Linked DNA regions of Homo sapiens: region 1 is linked to region 2. Evidence: fine-mapped expression QTL. Tissue or cell type: whole blood. Region 2 holds a variant in brackets; the other region holds the start of a gene. All regions are shown on one strand. Distances are from middle to middle.

Region 1 (8,104 bases), 120 kb after region 2:
ACAAGAGCGAAACTCCGTCTTAAAAAAAAAAAAAAAAAAAAAAGTCCTACCCAGCCAACCAATCAGTGAATGTTTTGCTGGGTTTGTGGGAGAAAAAGTGCCTGCTTGCTGGGCAATTAGTTTCAGTTTGCAGATCAGTGTCCTTGTAAACAAAAAAGGGCCCTAACTGAGGGGCAGGCAAGAGCTCTCAGCTAGATCTCCATGAAAGAAATTATTATTAATTCAAAAAGCATCTATAAGACCTATTCAATCAAATAATATATTATCAGTGGCATTAGTTCTTACAGGAACGTTGAAATTAAAAAATACTGTACAACCATCTTCTCAAATGCCAGGGAATCCAACTTTGCAAGCCAAACCAGTTGTCTCAAATTCAATTATAAGTTTTCCTTCTGCCAAAGAGATATGTTTTCTGTTTAAAGTAGACTGGAGCCCATGCTCCATACTTGATCAGATCACTGTAAAGTCAATTTAGCTGCTGAGAACTAGATATTGGCAATCTAGAGTGAATTCACAGAGAAGTACAAACTACCTAATATTTAAAACACAGGAAAGTTATCGAAATTGGACATCCTTCCAAGATTTTTTCACCCAAAGACCATCACAGACGTAAGTATAATGTTAGTTCATGAAAATTATTAAAAGCCTTGAACAACAGTTCAGATGACAAATATTACTCAATCCAGCTTTACTGCAGTGTATACTGAATTGGATTCTAAGCAACTCCAGTGAAAGTATTAGAGAATATAGTAAATAGATGATGGATTTAACAAAAATACTCTGTGCTGCTTCCTCTCTGCTTTTTAAAGTGAAGCCTAGAAGCAATCTAAGTGTCCATAAATAAGGGCTTGGTTAAATAAATTATGATACATTCTTACCCTGGAAAATGCAACTATTAAAAAGAATAAAGTAGACCCTAGATACCGATATTTTTTTTAAAAGTCCATGATACATAGTTAAGTGAATACCACAAGTTGCAAAACATGTATAGAATTATTCCATTTTGATTTTTTAAAATCTATTTTTAAATACCCTGTGTGTATGTTCATATATGCCCAGCAAAAACAGCTGAAAAAAGATCTGACAAATTGCTAACAGTAGTAACCTCTAGGGACTGACTGAAACTAGGAGGCAGTGAAGGAGTGACTTTCCCTTTTTCCTTTGTGGACTTCTGGTTGTTTATATTTTTTTGCCAGTAGGGGTTACCTTTGGGGTTGAAAAATAACAACACAAAAATAGTAAAAGTAAAATAACATGAATTACACAGATTTATTTATCAGATACTAACCAAAGTAAGTGATCTTTCTACTTAAATGCTACTGTATGCTTAAAACTCCAGAGAATCTAATTCATTCTTTTTCTATTATATTTTACTAAAACAAATAAAAATCACCCCAAGTCCCTACTAGTTTTCTCAAATGCTTTCTATACATACATACATACACACACACACACACACACACACACACCCACAGGCCTGGTCATAAGCATAGCTAACACACACGGTGCTTATTCTACACTAGGAACTGTTGTAAGCACAGTAAGTGTTAACTTATTTAATCTTCCCAGCAGGCCTGGTGAAGTGAATCATGCCTGAAATCCTAGAACTTTGGGAGGCCGAGGCAGGAGGACTGCTTGAGTTCAGGAACTCAAGACTAGCCTGGGCAATATAGTGAGCCCTCATCTCTACAAAAAATACAAAAAATTAGCTGGGTGTGGTGACCCACGCCTGTAGTCTCAGCTGCTCAGGAAGCTGAGGTGGGAGGATCGCTTGAGCCTGGGAGGCAGAGGTTGCAGTGAGCCAAGATTGTGCCACTGCACTTCAGCCTGGGCAACAGAGCCAGACCCTGTCTCAAAAAACAAAAACAAAAACAAAAAAAGTCTTCACAGCAACCTTATGAGTTAAGTACTACTATAATATTATCTTCATTTCACAATCAAAGAAACTGAGTCCAAAGAGCTTCAGTGAGCCGCCTAAGCTTACACAGCTAACAAGGGGAAGAGCTAGGATTCAAACCTAAGAATAAACTCCAGAGTCCATACTCTCAACCACTATGCTTCCTGTCTCTCAGTAATATGTCAATCTCTCTATATGAAAGCCAAAAGGGGTTACAGGTAAAACCCAGCTAGCTAATGCATTCCTTGAAGCTGGAAGAGATGCACACTTGGCTTTTTATGGGTGAATAATCCTACTTATGTCATTGCCAAGCTCCAACCCAAGGATCAAGACTGTATTAAGGTTCATAACCATGTGGGAAAATTCTCTACACACTCAATTATAGTCCAAAGTCCATACCTGACTCCACAGTAAATCACTAAGCCTAAGATTTAGGTCAGAGACCCAGCTAGACAAAGGATTTGGACAAACCTCCACCCCAACTCAAAGCAAGACAATTCAGAAACTTTTGTCCAAACGTTCTGACAAAGTAGGCTTTTGTTTTGTTTTGTTTTAGTCCTAGGCCCACTTAAGATTTAAACGGGGAAAGAATACGAGTTGTCTTTAACTTTGCTTGAAGACTTCAGCAAGAAAAGCCTTTTCTACGTGGGCTCAAACAGAAATTGGCATATATCAGCATCAGCAAAGTTGAACATCCTGGCTTAAGGAGACAAAAATAGGCATCCTTGCTTAAATGGTGTATTTGGCCAAACATGTTGACCTTATAATTGTGGAAGAAAAAAATGGTGCGAGGAAGAGATTTAACCTAATTTGTAAATGTGCTCAGCCTAGATACACACCTGTCCCAAATGACCTACTGAATCCACTTATTTGCAGGGACAACATGGATTACAATGCCTTTTTTGTTTTTATTTTTTGCCCTCAAGTGGTCCATACTACTGTTTGTAAACAAAATCCTCTCACTACCTCTCTTCCACCTGTCATACACACACATCTGATATTTACATAAACAAGAAGAAATGAACAGGGAAACTGGAGCTTTGGGAGGAATTCCTTACCCTCAGCTTTTGACCCAGTGGTTGAAGGAGGTACTATGCGGGCTTTCAAACTTCCCCAAATAACCCAGGCAGAGAGGCTGGGTGCGCGAACCCAACCCAAAAGTTTGCGCCCATTCTGGTCTCTGAAAAAGGCCAGAAAGCCCTGTTGGGAAGAAGATGAGATGCCTTCCACCCAGCAGCCACCCCCTCCCGAGGGAGCACAGCCCACGGGGGACAAAAGACTTTCCAGATTGATCGGGGGCGGGAGGGAGACTAGCTGGACCTGGGATCCCCCCTCGGGAGCCGGAACCTGGGGTGTCTTTGGGGTAACAAACGATAAATTATAGGCAAGAGCCCAACCCTAGATTGCCGGGGCTGAGGTGAGGACGGGTCCTGCCCGAGAGGGAGCGCCGGACTCACCTGGAGGAGGCGAAGAGGGGGCCTCGGTGGCAGGTGGGGTGGGGAGGACGCTGCTGTTGCTGCTGCTGGGGAGATCGGGGGTCGGGGTCCGGGGAGTCGTGGGCGCCGGTACGGTGGTCGCTACAGGGGTGGTCGGCGCCGGGCCAGTGGTCGTCGAAAGGGTGGTCGGCGCGGGTCTGGTCGGCGCCTGAGAGGTGGTCGAAGTGCGTTCCGCCGCCGGAGGGGTGGTCGGCGAGGGGCCGAGCGGCGCCTGAAAGGTGGTGGAAGAGGGTCCAGCAGTCGCCCAAAGAGGGGTGGTCTCCGGGGACTGGGCTGGAGAAGTCGCAGCCAGGGGTCGGTGGACGGTGGCGCGCGGGGGCCCGGTCCTCGGGGCCTGGGCCGTGGGAGCCGTCGCCCTAGGGAAGGGGTGGCTGGGCTCGCCCCGCAACCCGGGGCCCGGCGACGCGTCCACCTGCCCCGCGGCCCCGCCGCCACCGGTGACATTCCCCGCCGAGGCGGCTGAGGCGACGGCGGCGGCGGCGGCGGCGGCGGCGCAGCACAACAGGGCGAGGCCGCCCAGGCTCGGCAGGCTCCTCATGGCGCGCTCGGCTCCGCCATTCATTCATTCAGCCAGTCGGTTGGTCAGTCATCTTCTCCTCGTTGCAATCCGACCAAGGAAGCCTCCGCAACCGCCGCCGCCACCGCCACCGGGCGCACCATCGCCACCTCCCTCTGACAGGCGGCCGGCCCCGCGGGCGGGCCCCAGCGCGGAGGGAGCGACCGGACCGAGCGCGGACCGCCCGCCCTCCTCGATTGGCAGCCGCGCCTAACCAATGGGAAGCCACAGTCGCCCACGTGATCCGCCCGCTTCCCGGCCTCTTTGTAGCCCCGTAGGCCAATCAGAGGACGTCCAGGAGAGGGGGCGGTCCGTGAGGCGGGAGAAGGGTGGTGCGAGCCCAGCTCTAGCCCGCCGGGCTCGCGGCGGCCCCGGCTTTGTCTGCCCAAAGAGTGGGGCGCGGGCCTCGGGCACCGGGCGCCGCGGAGCAGACAAAGGATGCGCCCCGCGCGGCAGACGCCGGGCCTAGTCATCTGCTCCACCGGGCTGCGAGCACGAGCGGGGGGTGGAATCAGCACTCGGGAGCATCCCCGCCCTCCTGAACAATGGGGCGCCAGCGCCGCACCCCAGCTCGGGCGGGGACCGCGCGGGAACCCCGCGATGGGAGAGGGCAGCGGCAGCGACGATGTAGAGCTTGGCATGCCCTCTGCTGCTCCAGAGAGCCTGGTCGCAGCCTTGCGAGGTCTCTGCCGCCATTCCCATTTCAGAGATGGGGAAGCTGAGGCCCTTGCTGAGGGCCTCCCTGAACCGAGACCCACGCCCTCACCAGAAACCTGCTGTGGGCCAGGTGTTGTGCCAGACTGGACAAGGGGGCGGGACCGGGCGGTGGAGACCCCTGAGGGCAGAAGGTGCAAGCTTCCTGCGTGGAGGAGACAGGCTCGCAAGCACACTTACCTAAACCCCGGGAAGAATAGGATCAGACAGGGTTGAACCTCAACTTGATGTCTTTTGCTGAATGGTTTTGTGGCCTGAGCGCGGTTTTTTCACCACTAAAATGGAGATGATAGGACACCCCTCACCCCCCACCCCCCTCACAGAGCTGTTGTGAGAATTAAGTCATGGACGTAAAGGGCTTAGCCCAGAGCCTGGCCCACTGTTGTAACCCTCATTAATGCTAACTATTCTCAGCATTTGCGCCAGGGCAAGCCCAGGATTAGAAAGCAGCCCCAGGCCACAGCCCTTCAGTGCCCCCAGAGCCTCCGGCTGGTTGCAGGGGTTGGGGTGGGGCTAATAGCCGAGCTTGACCCTGGATGACACTAAACCCTGAATCAAGCTGGAATTCGGGCACGCAGCCTCGCATCATCCGCCCAGGATCCAGAGCTAGGTCAGGCGCTGCTGCTTCGGCTCAGCAGCTTCCAGAGGAAGCCAGGCAGGGCGGGTTTGTCATCTGATGGGGCTTAATTCAAGCCCCACTGCTAACCCAATCCCGGCCTCCCCTACGTGATGTTTGGCTTTGTGCATGGTTTCCCATTAGTCATTGGTCTTCAACCAGACCAGCAGGATGAGATTTATGTGTGAACCCGTGTATGTTAATTAAAGCATGCATTTATTTTCCTGCATGAGTAGTGGGTGGGGGAGGCTGTGTATGAATGCATAAACATGTTTGTGAGTCTGTGTGTATGAGTGTTGTATGTATCTGTGTGAGTTTATGAGTATGGGAGCTAGTATCTATTTTCATATATTGTGTCTTAATAATCTGTGCATGTGTACTGGTGTGTGTTTTTGTGTATTTTCTGTGTTTTTGCATTTGTGGTTATCTATGGGTGTGTCTTGATAGGTCTATGTATATAAGACAGCGGGAATGAGGGAGAATGTGAGTGTTCTGTCTTCAGGACCAATATTTAGCAAGCACTAACCAAGGTTCTATTTTTACTTTGCTTTGGGAGGGTGGACAGGTCATGCCAGTCCCCCATATTCCCTTGCTGACCCTCCCTGGCCCTTCAAACCCCAACCAAAATGTCACATTCTCTAAAAGACATTCCTGGATTTGAGTGGGAATTAATCTCTCCCTTCTCATTTCCCCACCACCCCTTGTTTATGCATTGATTACAGCCCTGATCTACCAATCTACCTCTCCGTTGCCTCTTCCTAAAAGGATTAAGGATGGCTTTCAGAAATATATACAACAGGATAAATTGTATTGCCCACATGGCTTTATTACTTCTCATAGGCATGCATCAGCCTTAATACTAGAACTTGTTATTTATGTGTCTGTCTCTTACGTCAGATGTTCTCCCTGTTCTGAGAACCTAGCAGGGGCAACACATGTAAGTGCCAACCCATGCTGGTTAAATTGAATTAATTGAGGTCTTGTCGTGCTTGTGGGAGGAGCTTGTGTCTTTAGAGTCAGACAGACTTGGGTCATGACTGCCAACTCTGTGACCTTGGAGGAAACCTTTCACCTCTCTGAGCCTCAGTTTTCCCCCCCACTTTTTTTTTTTTGAGACAGTGTTTCACCCTTGTCGCCCAGGCTGGAGTGCAGTGGGGTGATCTTGGCTCACTGCAACCTCCGCCTCCCAGGTTCAATCGATTCTCCTGCCTCAGCCTCCCGAGTAGCCGGGATTACAGGCACTTGCCACCAGGCCCAGTTAATTCTTGTATTTTTAGTACAGACGGGGTTTCACCATGTTGGCCAGGCTGGTCTCGAACTCCTGAGCTCAAGTTATCCTCCGGCCTAGACCTCCCAAAGTGCTGGGATTACAGACATGAGCCGCCGCGCCAGGCCACTTTTCTCATCTATTAAATGGGGCCAATAAATAGTCTCTCATTTGTTGACTAGGATTGAGGAGAATGTTTTTACAGAGCCTAGCACACAGACGGTGCTCAAGCTGTGTAGGTTCATATTTTTGTTATACCATTGCTAACTTTGAGACTTGTTGGCTGAAGGACCAGAGCAGAAACCCCTGCCCCATAAGTTCCCCATCAGGTGACATGGCCTGACACTTGCCCTACCTGATATTTCCAAATGATATCTGAAAAATGCTGGGTTGGCCCTGAGCTTTGCTGTATCAGAGGTTCTCTGGCAAGGGGAAAAAAGCTGATGCAGCTTCTTGGCCAGGAGAGCCACAGAGCAAATGACTAGGAGACCTTGTCGAGTGATTCAGGTCAGCTCTCTGCCTTAGGCAAGGATCATCCATGCCGGGGCTTTTAAGATGGGATATTAGCCTGTCATATGTATAGAAAATATTGAATTTTTTTGAAAGATACCAGTAATTTAAATGTGTTAATGTCCATTCAACATTTAATTTTTAAATTTCCTTAATCTTAAATCTTCCTTAATCTCTAAACTACAAGATGACTTTCTTAGGAATTATGTTTGTGTTTAAAAATTGGAAATACCTTACATATCTGTCATCAAAGAAAGGTATTATTATACCTGTTAAATTTAATCCTAGAAAGTCATTGTAAGTGTAGCTATGAAGACAGTATAGCAAATATTAATAGTAAATAATTGAGCTCATAGTCTATGCTAGACACTATACCAAGAGCTACATATGAATTGTTTTGTTTAATCCTAAAAACCCCAGGAAATAGGTACTATTATGTCTTAGTCCATTTGGGCTGCTGCAACAAAGTACTGTAGATTGTGGCTTGTAGACAACAAAAAATATATCTCTCCCAGCTCTGGTGCCTGGGAAGTCCAAGATCAAGGCACCAGCAGATTCAGTGAGCTCCCTGGGTGTCCTTTAAAAGGACACTAATTCCATTCATGATGGCGCTGCCCTTATAACCTAATCATCTCCCAAACGCTTCCAAATACTTTTACATGGGGAGTTAGGATTTCAACGTGTGAATTTTAGGGGGACACAAACATTCAGTCTATAGTCTATTATTATCTGCATTTTACAGCTAAGGAAACTAGGTCACAGGTTAAGCAACTTGCCCATGGTCACTTAGTAAATAATAGAGCTAGAAATCAAACTGAGGCTGGCTGGCTCCCACTGACACCCTTAACTATAAATGGAAAATCCTCATAATGGTAAGAAGAAAAGAAAAAATAAAAATTATAGCTGTGACACTCTGTGTAACAGAACATTGACTGGCACTTTTCCTATTTGCCCCAGAACTGTAGCTAAGGCCCATGAGACCTGGAGCCAAAGGCTTAGGGAAGGACCACAGAACAGCAGGGGTCAGAGTGGGCCTTGTTGGAGCCAA
Region 2 (8,104 bases):
TCAAGAGATACAGAATAGCAGACTGGACGCGGTGGCTCATGCCTATAACCCTAGCACTTTGGGAGGCTGAGGCGGGCAGATCACTTGAGGCCAGAAGTTCAAGACCAGCCTGGCCAAAGTGGTGTTACCCCATCTCTACTAAAAATACAAAAATTAGCTGGGCATGGTGTTGTGTGCCTGTAATCCCAGCTACTCCAGAGGCTGAGATAGGAGAATCACTTCTTGAACCCAGGAGGTGGAGGTTGCAGTGAGCTGAGATCACACCACTGCACTCCAGCCTGGGCAACAGAGCAAGATCCAGTCTCAAAAAAAAAAAAAAAAGAGAGAGAGAGAGGTAGAACACGACTCTCCAACAGAACTTTCTTGGATGATGGAAATACAGTATTCTAAATCTGCACTGTCCAATACAATAGCCACTAGCCACTTGTGGCTATTGAACCCTGGAAATGTAGCTATGTGACTGAGGAATTGAATTTTTAAAATGTTTATCTTAATTAAAATTTAAATAGCCACATGGGGCTAGTGGTTACTGTATTAGCATAGATGTGAAACATTTCCATCACCCCACAAGGTTCCTTGGTGTTACAGTCCAAGTCAATCTCCCTTCCCCCTCAGGAAATCACTGTTCTTTTATTTTTTATTTTTTGAGACGGAGTCTCACTCTATCGCCCAGGCTGGAGTGCAGTGGCGCGATCTCCCCTCACTGCAAGCTCCGCCTCCTGGGTTCACGCCATTCTCCTGCCTCAGCCTCCCAAGTAGCTGGGACTACAGGCGCTGCCACCACACCCGGCTAATATTTTGTATTTTTTAGTAGAGATGGGGTTTCACTGTTTTAGACAGGATGGTCTCGATCTCCTGACCTCGTGATCTGCCCGCCTCGGCCTCCCAAAGTGCTGGGATTACAGGCGTGAGCCACTGTGCCCGGCTTTTTTTTTTTTTTTTTTTTTTTTTTTTTTTTTTTTTTTTTTTTTGAGACAGAGTTTCGTTCTTGTCACACAAGGTGGAGCGCAATGGTGAGATCTGGACTCACTGCAACCTCCGCCTTCCGGGTTCAATAATTCTGCCTCAGCTTCCTGAGTAGCTGAAATTACAAGTGTGCACCACCACGCCCAGCTGATTTTTGTATTTTTTAGTAGAGACAGGGTTTCACCACGTTGGCCAAGCTCGTCTCAAACTCCTGACCTCAGGTGATCCACCTACCTCAGCCTCCCAAAGTGCTTGGATTACAGGCATGAGCCACCACACCCGGCCTCACTGTTCTATTTTTCCTCATTAAAGATTTGTCTTTTTGGGCTGGTCATGGTGGCTCTGACCTATAATACCAAAACTTTGGGAGGCCAAAGCAGGAGGATTGCTGAAGCCCAGGAGTTCGAGACCAGCCTACTCAATATAGGGAGTCCTCATCTCCACAAAGAAAAAATTAAAAATTAGTGGGGCATGAGGTGGCCGCGATGGCTCATGCCTGTAATCCCAGCACTTTCGGAGGCCAAGGCGGGTAGATCACGTGAGGTCAGGAATTCAAGACCAGCCCGGGTGACATGGCGAAACCCCATCTCTACTAAAAATACAAAAATCAGCTGGGCATAATGGCACATACCTGTAGTCCTAGCTACTGGGGAAGCTGAGGCAGGAGGATCCTTTGAACCTGGGAGGCAGAGGTTGCAGTGAGCTGAGATCACGCCACTGCACTCCATCCAGCCTGGGCAACAGAGTGAGATGCTGTATCAAAACAACAAAAAAAATTGTTTTTTCTTTCTTTCCTTTGTTTTTTGTTTTTTTGTTTTTGTTTTGAGACGGGGTCTCCCTCTGTCGCCCAGGCTAGAGTGCAGTGGTGCAATCACAGCTCACTGCAGCCTCGACCTCCTGGGCTCCAGCGATCTTCCCGCCTCAGCCTCCCGAGTGGCTGGTACTACAGGCACATGCCACCACACCCAGCCAATTTTAGTATTTTTTGTACGGATAGTATTTCGCCATGTCACCCAGGCTGGTCTCAAACTCCTGGACTCAAGCTACTCTCCAGTCTCAGCCTCCCAAAGTACTAGGATTACGAGCATGAGCCACCATGCCCAGCCAAGATTTGTCTTTCAACAGTTTCTTAGGACTGGAATCATACAGTGCATACTCTTGTGTCTGGCTACTCTGGAGAGCAAGAACTTTTAACTCTATACCCTCTGGTCTCTTATAGTGCCTGGCAGATAATAGGTGTTTAATAAATATTGAGGAAAGAATGAATTAATAAATCTTAACCAGAATTAATTATCTTACTCTGAACACCCTTATCTTCCCACTGAATAGAATACAAGAATTAAAAAGGTCCTCACAGAGAACATTTAACGAAACTTCTTGGATTTACCAGTGGAAAAACTGAGATCCAGATGGATTCAGCGGCCTGCCCAAGTTCACTCTACAAGTGCATAACAGAGCAAGAATAGACCCAAAATGGGCAGACTTCCAGGCCTGTGCTCTCCTCGCTTCACAATACCAGTTTCCCACCCATTTCCCATAGGCAAATATGGCGTTTCTTCATGGATCCCTGTGGAACCATAGAATGCCAACAACATGTCACTTTGCTTCTTTCAGCCTCCTGTGGATGCCGTCCTGGCCACAGACCACTCACTGAAAACACAGAAACAGCAGCAATTCAACTTAGGGAGGTGTCTCATTTCATTTAAGTATACCCAAAACCCAAGAGTAGCCTTACTCAAATACTGGGCTGTAGATTGGTTTTCTAGTCAGGAAGCAAACTAGCTGGTACCTGATCCAATTATCCACTCACTAGAGATAGAAAAACATTGCATTTTTTGTAAAGTTTTTATTTAAAACCTCTTTTTTTTTTTTTAGACGGAGTTTCTCTCTTGTCACTCAGGCTGGAGTGCAATGGCACGATCTCGGCTCACTGCAACCTCTGCCTCCCGGGTTCAAGCGATTCTCCTGCCTCAGCCTCCCGGGTAGCTGGGATTACAGGCGCATTATCAGCACACCCGGCTCATTTTTGTATTTTCAGTAGAGACAGGGTTTCACCATCTTGGCCAGGCTGGTCTTGAACTCCTGACCTTGTGATCCACCTGCCTCGGCCTCCCAAAATGCTGGGATTACAGGCATGAGCCACCGCACCCAGCCTAAAGACCTCTTAAATAATAGGGAGAGAGGAAGCGAACTATTCATTATAGACCTTGCATGTGCTGCGATGCTCCACATAAGGTTTTCACTTAACCTTGCTGCAACCCTAAGAGGTCAGCATCAAGACCAGCCTGAGCGACATGGCGAAACCCCATGTTTAGTGATAACTAAAAAGTTATTACTTTTATAGGTAATGGCGACAAGACGAAGAGCCATCTGTTAAGTTGCCCCAGATCCTACAGTTGTGAGGCCTGCACTAGAACCCATATCTCTCTGCTTTTGAAATGGGAGGGTTCCCCAATCCCTCTCACAGGACGTGTGAAGGCAAGTGTGG[C/G]TTGCCTGTCACTGCCACTGCTCAAACCCCCGAGGGAAGGGGGAACACACAGACAGGCAGTTGCAGGAACCCAAGTGGGCATGTGTTACAGTGTGCCCTTTTAGCCCTCCTATCTGTAGACGGCTTGAGTGTTAAACCGCTCAATGGACCCTCTGCCTTTTCATAAGGGCAGAGGGCCAGTGTGATAGCTTTCTGTATTGTGAGCTCTTGCCTAGCATCCTGGAAGAATCGGGTCACACATGGGCTTGAAGGATGAATGTGGGGTTTTATTGAGTGGTGGAGGTGGTTTTTAGAGGGATGGATGGGGAGCTGGAAGGGGGAATGGAATAGGAAGATGATATTCCCCTGGAGCCTGCCCATCCAGTGGCCGAACTCCTCTCTGACCACCCCCAGCCAAACTCCTCTGGGCATTCAGATGTTCCTCTTCGTCTCTCTTTCTCTGTTGCATCATTCCGCAGTTCCTCTGCCTATCTCATCTCCTCCCCTGCTTGTCTGCTTCCGGAGCCTGGAGTTCGGGGTTTATATGGGTACAAGATAGGGGGTGTGGTGGGCAAAAAGGCAACTTTTTGGGCACGAAAACAGAAATGCCTGTTCCCACTTAGGGCTGCAGGTCTCCAGGCTTGAGGGTGGGGCCTTTGCCGGGGACCGCTCTCTTCTACTCAGTATTTCCCTGTCTCCTGTCCATATCACTTTCAAAGCTGATGCTTTTTGTACCATAAGCTATTATCTTTTAGAACCAAGAAAAATAGATTTTATGTTGATGTTCCAGTATGCACCTTTTAATTAGACAGTAATACAGGTAAATAATCTATGTTGCTGTTTGTTGGGCAGCTCATAGCTCAACTGGGTGCCATTTGCTAACTTAGCCTTTAGCCTAGGTTTTCTGGTATGTTTCTGCTTCCTCCTTAGTATACTTAACTGATACTTTAACTCTTAATTCAAAGGTTTAATGATCTCTACCTTTTAATACAAAAAGTTGAGATACAGATTGTAACTAAATAAAATTCTTTACCCAGGACAGTACCTGTTAACATTGAAACCTTTTCATTTTAACTGAAGGAAATTCAAAATGTAACTGTTGCCAAATTCCTTGTTTCCAAATTTAAAGGCCTCTCCATTTCAGACAATTCCACTGGGGATTAATGGCCCATTGGCGTCTATACAATTTCCTTAATTTACCCTAAAATTATTATCTTGAGTAAAGCAGAATCTTAATAGACAACATTAATGTCTTTATCCTTGTCTGGAAGGATCTCATCTCTTTGCAAAAAATAGCTTCTTCAAACGAGGCTGGATAATCCCCCCTAGCCATGGTGATTAAAGATAACAATGGCTCATTTAGAAAATGTTTTGGGGAAATTAAAAAGCTGAGATGAAGCCTGTTGGTTCTGGAGTAAAAGTAAAGGCAGGAAGGGGAGGACACCAAAAGCATCCATATATTGGACTATGTTTGCTTCCTACTCAGTCAGCACAGGCCGCAGTGTTTGAGGACATGCAGTCAGGTCTGTGGGCGTGATCTCTCTCTACACCGAAGGAATGAGCTTCATCAGCACCATTCCATCGAAGGGAATTTTGTGCTGTATGTTCCCAGGGTCACTCACAAACATCCCTACTTACAAGTGACTTGATGCTTTCCAAAATAACAGTTTATTGGGATTTTGGTTTAAGTTTGCACTAATTCAAAGCCTGCAGACTGCAGTATACTTACACACCTTTATTGTACTTATGAGTGTAGAAACTGTGATACGGCTGATTCACTTATTCATTTACTAACATATAGTGAGGGGTGTGTGTGTGTGTCTGTGTGTGTATGTGTGTGTGAGAGAGAGAGAGACAGGGCCTCACTCTGTTGCCCAGGCTGGAATGCAGTGACAAGATAATGACTTACTGCAGCCTGGACCTTCTGGCCTTAGCTGGGCACAGTGGCTCATGCCTATAATCCCAGCAGTTTGGGAGGCCAAGGCAGGAGGATTGCTTGAGCTCAGGAGTTCAAGACCAGCCCTAGCAGCATAGCAAGACTCTGTCTCTAAAAAAAAATAAAAATTATTTGGGTGTACTGGTGTCCACTTATAGTCCATCCACTTGTAATCCCAGCTACTCAGGAAGCTGAGGCGGGAGGAACACTTGTGCCTGGGAGGTCAAGGCTGCAGTGAGCCAAGGTCACACCATTGCACTCCTGCCTGGGCAACAGAGTGAGAACCTCTCTATAAACAAACAAAAGAAAAAACCTCCTGGGCTAAACGTTTCAATCTTCCAAACATACAGTTGATTCCTCTGGCAACCAGCACCCTCATCTTGAGGGGCTTTTCCAAAGTCACTTCAATAACTCAGGTGTGGTCAACAGGGACTTATGATAAGTAACAAAAGTTGTTCCTTTCACCTTTATCACCCTGGACCTATTACAAGAGCCAGGGGCAAAAACCAAATATAACTTAAGATGCTACTACAGCTCTTATCATTTAGAAACTTGCACAAAAGCTGGGAGCTAGACAAAGACCCAAATATATATTTCTTTTTTTTTTTTTTTTGAGACAGGGTTTCGCTCTGTTGCCCAGGCTAGAGTGCAGTGGCGCAATCTCAGCTCACTGCAGCCTCCATCTCCTGGGTTCAAATGATTCTCCTGCCTCAGCCTCCCAAGTAGCTGGGATCACAGGCATTCACCACCATGCCAGGCCATTTTTTTTGTATTTTTAGTGGAGACAGGGTTTCGCCATGTTGGGCCATGCTGGTCTCAAACTCCTGACCGCAAGTGATCCACCCACCTCGGCCTCCCAAAGTGCTGGGATTACAGGCGTGAGCCACTGTGCCCAGCCTATATTTCTTATTATATCACAATACACAAGAGAGTATCATCATCATCATCATTTTTATCATGAATGAATATTGGATTTTGCCAAATGCCTTTTGTACAGCTATTGAAGTAATCATCATATTATTTTTCTTTCTCAGCCTTTGTGAATTACACTGATTGATTTTTAAATGTTATACCAAACTTACATTTATGTGATAAACCCCAGTTGGTAATGAAGTACTATTTGTGCGTGTGTGTGTGTGTGTGAGTCAGAGTCTTGCTCTGTCACCCAGGCTGGAGTGCAGTGGTGCAACCTCCACCCCCTGGGTTCAAGCAATTCTCCTGCCTCAGCCTCCCACATAGCTGGGATTACAGGCATGCGCCACCACGCCTGGCTAATTTTTGTATTTTTTGTAGTAGAGACGGGGTTTTGCCATGTTGGCCAGGCTGGTCTCGAAGTCCTGACCTCGGGTGATCCGCCCGCCTTGGCCTCCCAAAGTGCTAAGATTACAGGCAGAAGCCACCACGCCCAGCCTTGAAGTACTGTTTTTTAAAGTGTATTGTTGTACTTAAATTTGCTTGAATTTTCTTAGAAATGTTTCTCTCTATATTCATGAGAGACATTGGTCTGTTGTTTTCTTGTTATGTCTTCTTTTTTTATTTGGGTAATGCTGGTTTCATAGAATGAGTTGACAAATATTGCTTCTTTAGTTTTTCTGGAAGGGTTTGTGTAGAATTGGTAATATTTCTTTAAATATTTCTAGAGTTCACCAGTGAAGCTATCTGGACCTGGAGTTTTCTTTGTGAAAGGTTTGTTTTTTGTTTATTCGGAGACAGGGTCTCACTGTGTTGCCCAGGATAGAGTGCAGTGGTGCAGCCTCGGCTCACTGCAGCCTCAAAATGCTGGGCTCAAGTGATCCTCCCACCTCAACTTCCCAAATAGCTGGGACTACAGGCATATACCAGCACACATGGCTAATTTTTCTTTTTTTCTTTCTTTCTTTTTTTTTTTGTACAGACGGGGTCTCACTTTGTTGCCCAGGCTGGCCTCAAACTCCTGGGCTCAAGCAGTCCTCTTGCCTTGGCCTCTCAGTGTGCTGGTATTACAGTGTGAGCCACTACACATAGCCTGTGAAAGGTTTTTAACTACAGGCCAGGTACGGTGTGGCTCATGACTGTAATCCCAACACTTTGGTAGGCCAAGGCGGGCAGATTACGAGGTCAGGAGTTCGAGACTAGCCTGGCAAGCGTGGTGAAACCCCGTCTCTACTACAAAAAATACAAAAATTAGCCAGGCACTGTGGCGCGCACCTGTAATCCTACTACTTGGGAGGCTGAGGCAGGAGAATTGCTTGAACCCAGGAGGCAGAGGTTGCAGGGAGCTGAGATCGCACCATTGCACTCCAGCCTGGGCGACAGAGCAAGACTCCATCTCAAAAATAAATAAATAAACAAACAAATAGTTTTTAACTACAAATTAAATTAAATAAAGGTAACATGACTACTTAGGTTATCTATTTCTTTTTGAGTGAGCATGGTTTGTGTCTTTGAAGGAATATGTACATTTCACGTAAGTCATCAAATTTGTTGGCATAAACTTCCTTTATTATCCTTTTTTTTAGACGGGGTCTTGCTCTGTTCTGTCACCCAGACTGGAGTGAAGTGGAGCAATCTCGGCTCACTGCAACCTCGGCCACCCAGGTTCAAGCGAATTCTCATTCCTCAGCCTCTCGTTTAGCTGGAACTACAGGTGCTATGCCTAGCTAATTTTTGTATTTTTTTAGGAGAGTCGGAGTTTCACCATGTTGGCCAGGCTGGTCTCTCAAACTGCTGACCTCAAGTGATCCCCCCACCTCGGT

Evidence for each region. PIP is the estimated chance that this variant, and not a neighbour inherited with it, causes the effect.
Region 1: MEGF9 starts here. The variant in region 2 is fine-mapped to the expression of MEGF9 in whole blood (TOPMed, PIP 0.94).

The regions. Positions count from the first base shown.
Region 1 is chr9:120,710,404-120,718,507 of GRCh38, forward strand. It overlaps MEGF9 (multiple EGF like domains 9), which reads right to left and starts at 4,067. Exons shown (of 6, transcript NM_001080497.3): 1 at 3,355-4,067. The coding sequence starts at 3,955. RefSeq lists a silencer at 3,755-4,604.
Region 2 is chr9:120,588,490-120,596,593 of GRCh38, forward strand. No RefSeq gene overlaps it. Among named protein-coding and RNA genes, the nearest start is that of CDK5RAP2, 12 kb to the left of the region's middle. The variant C/G (reference allele first, on the strand shown) is at 3,455.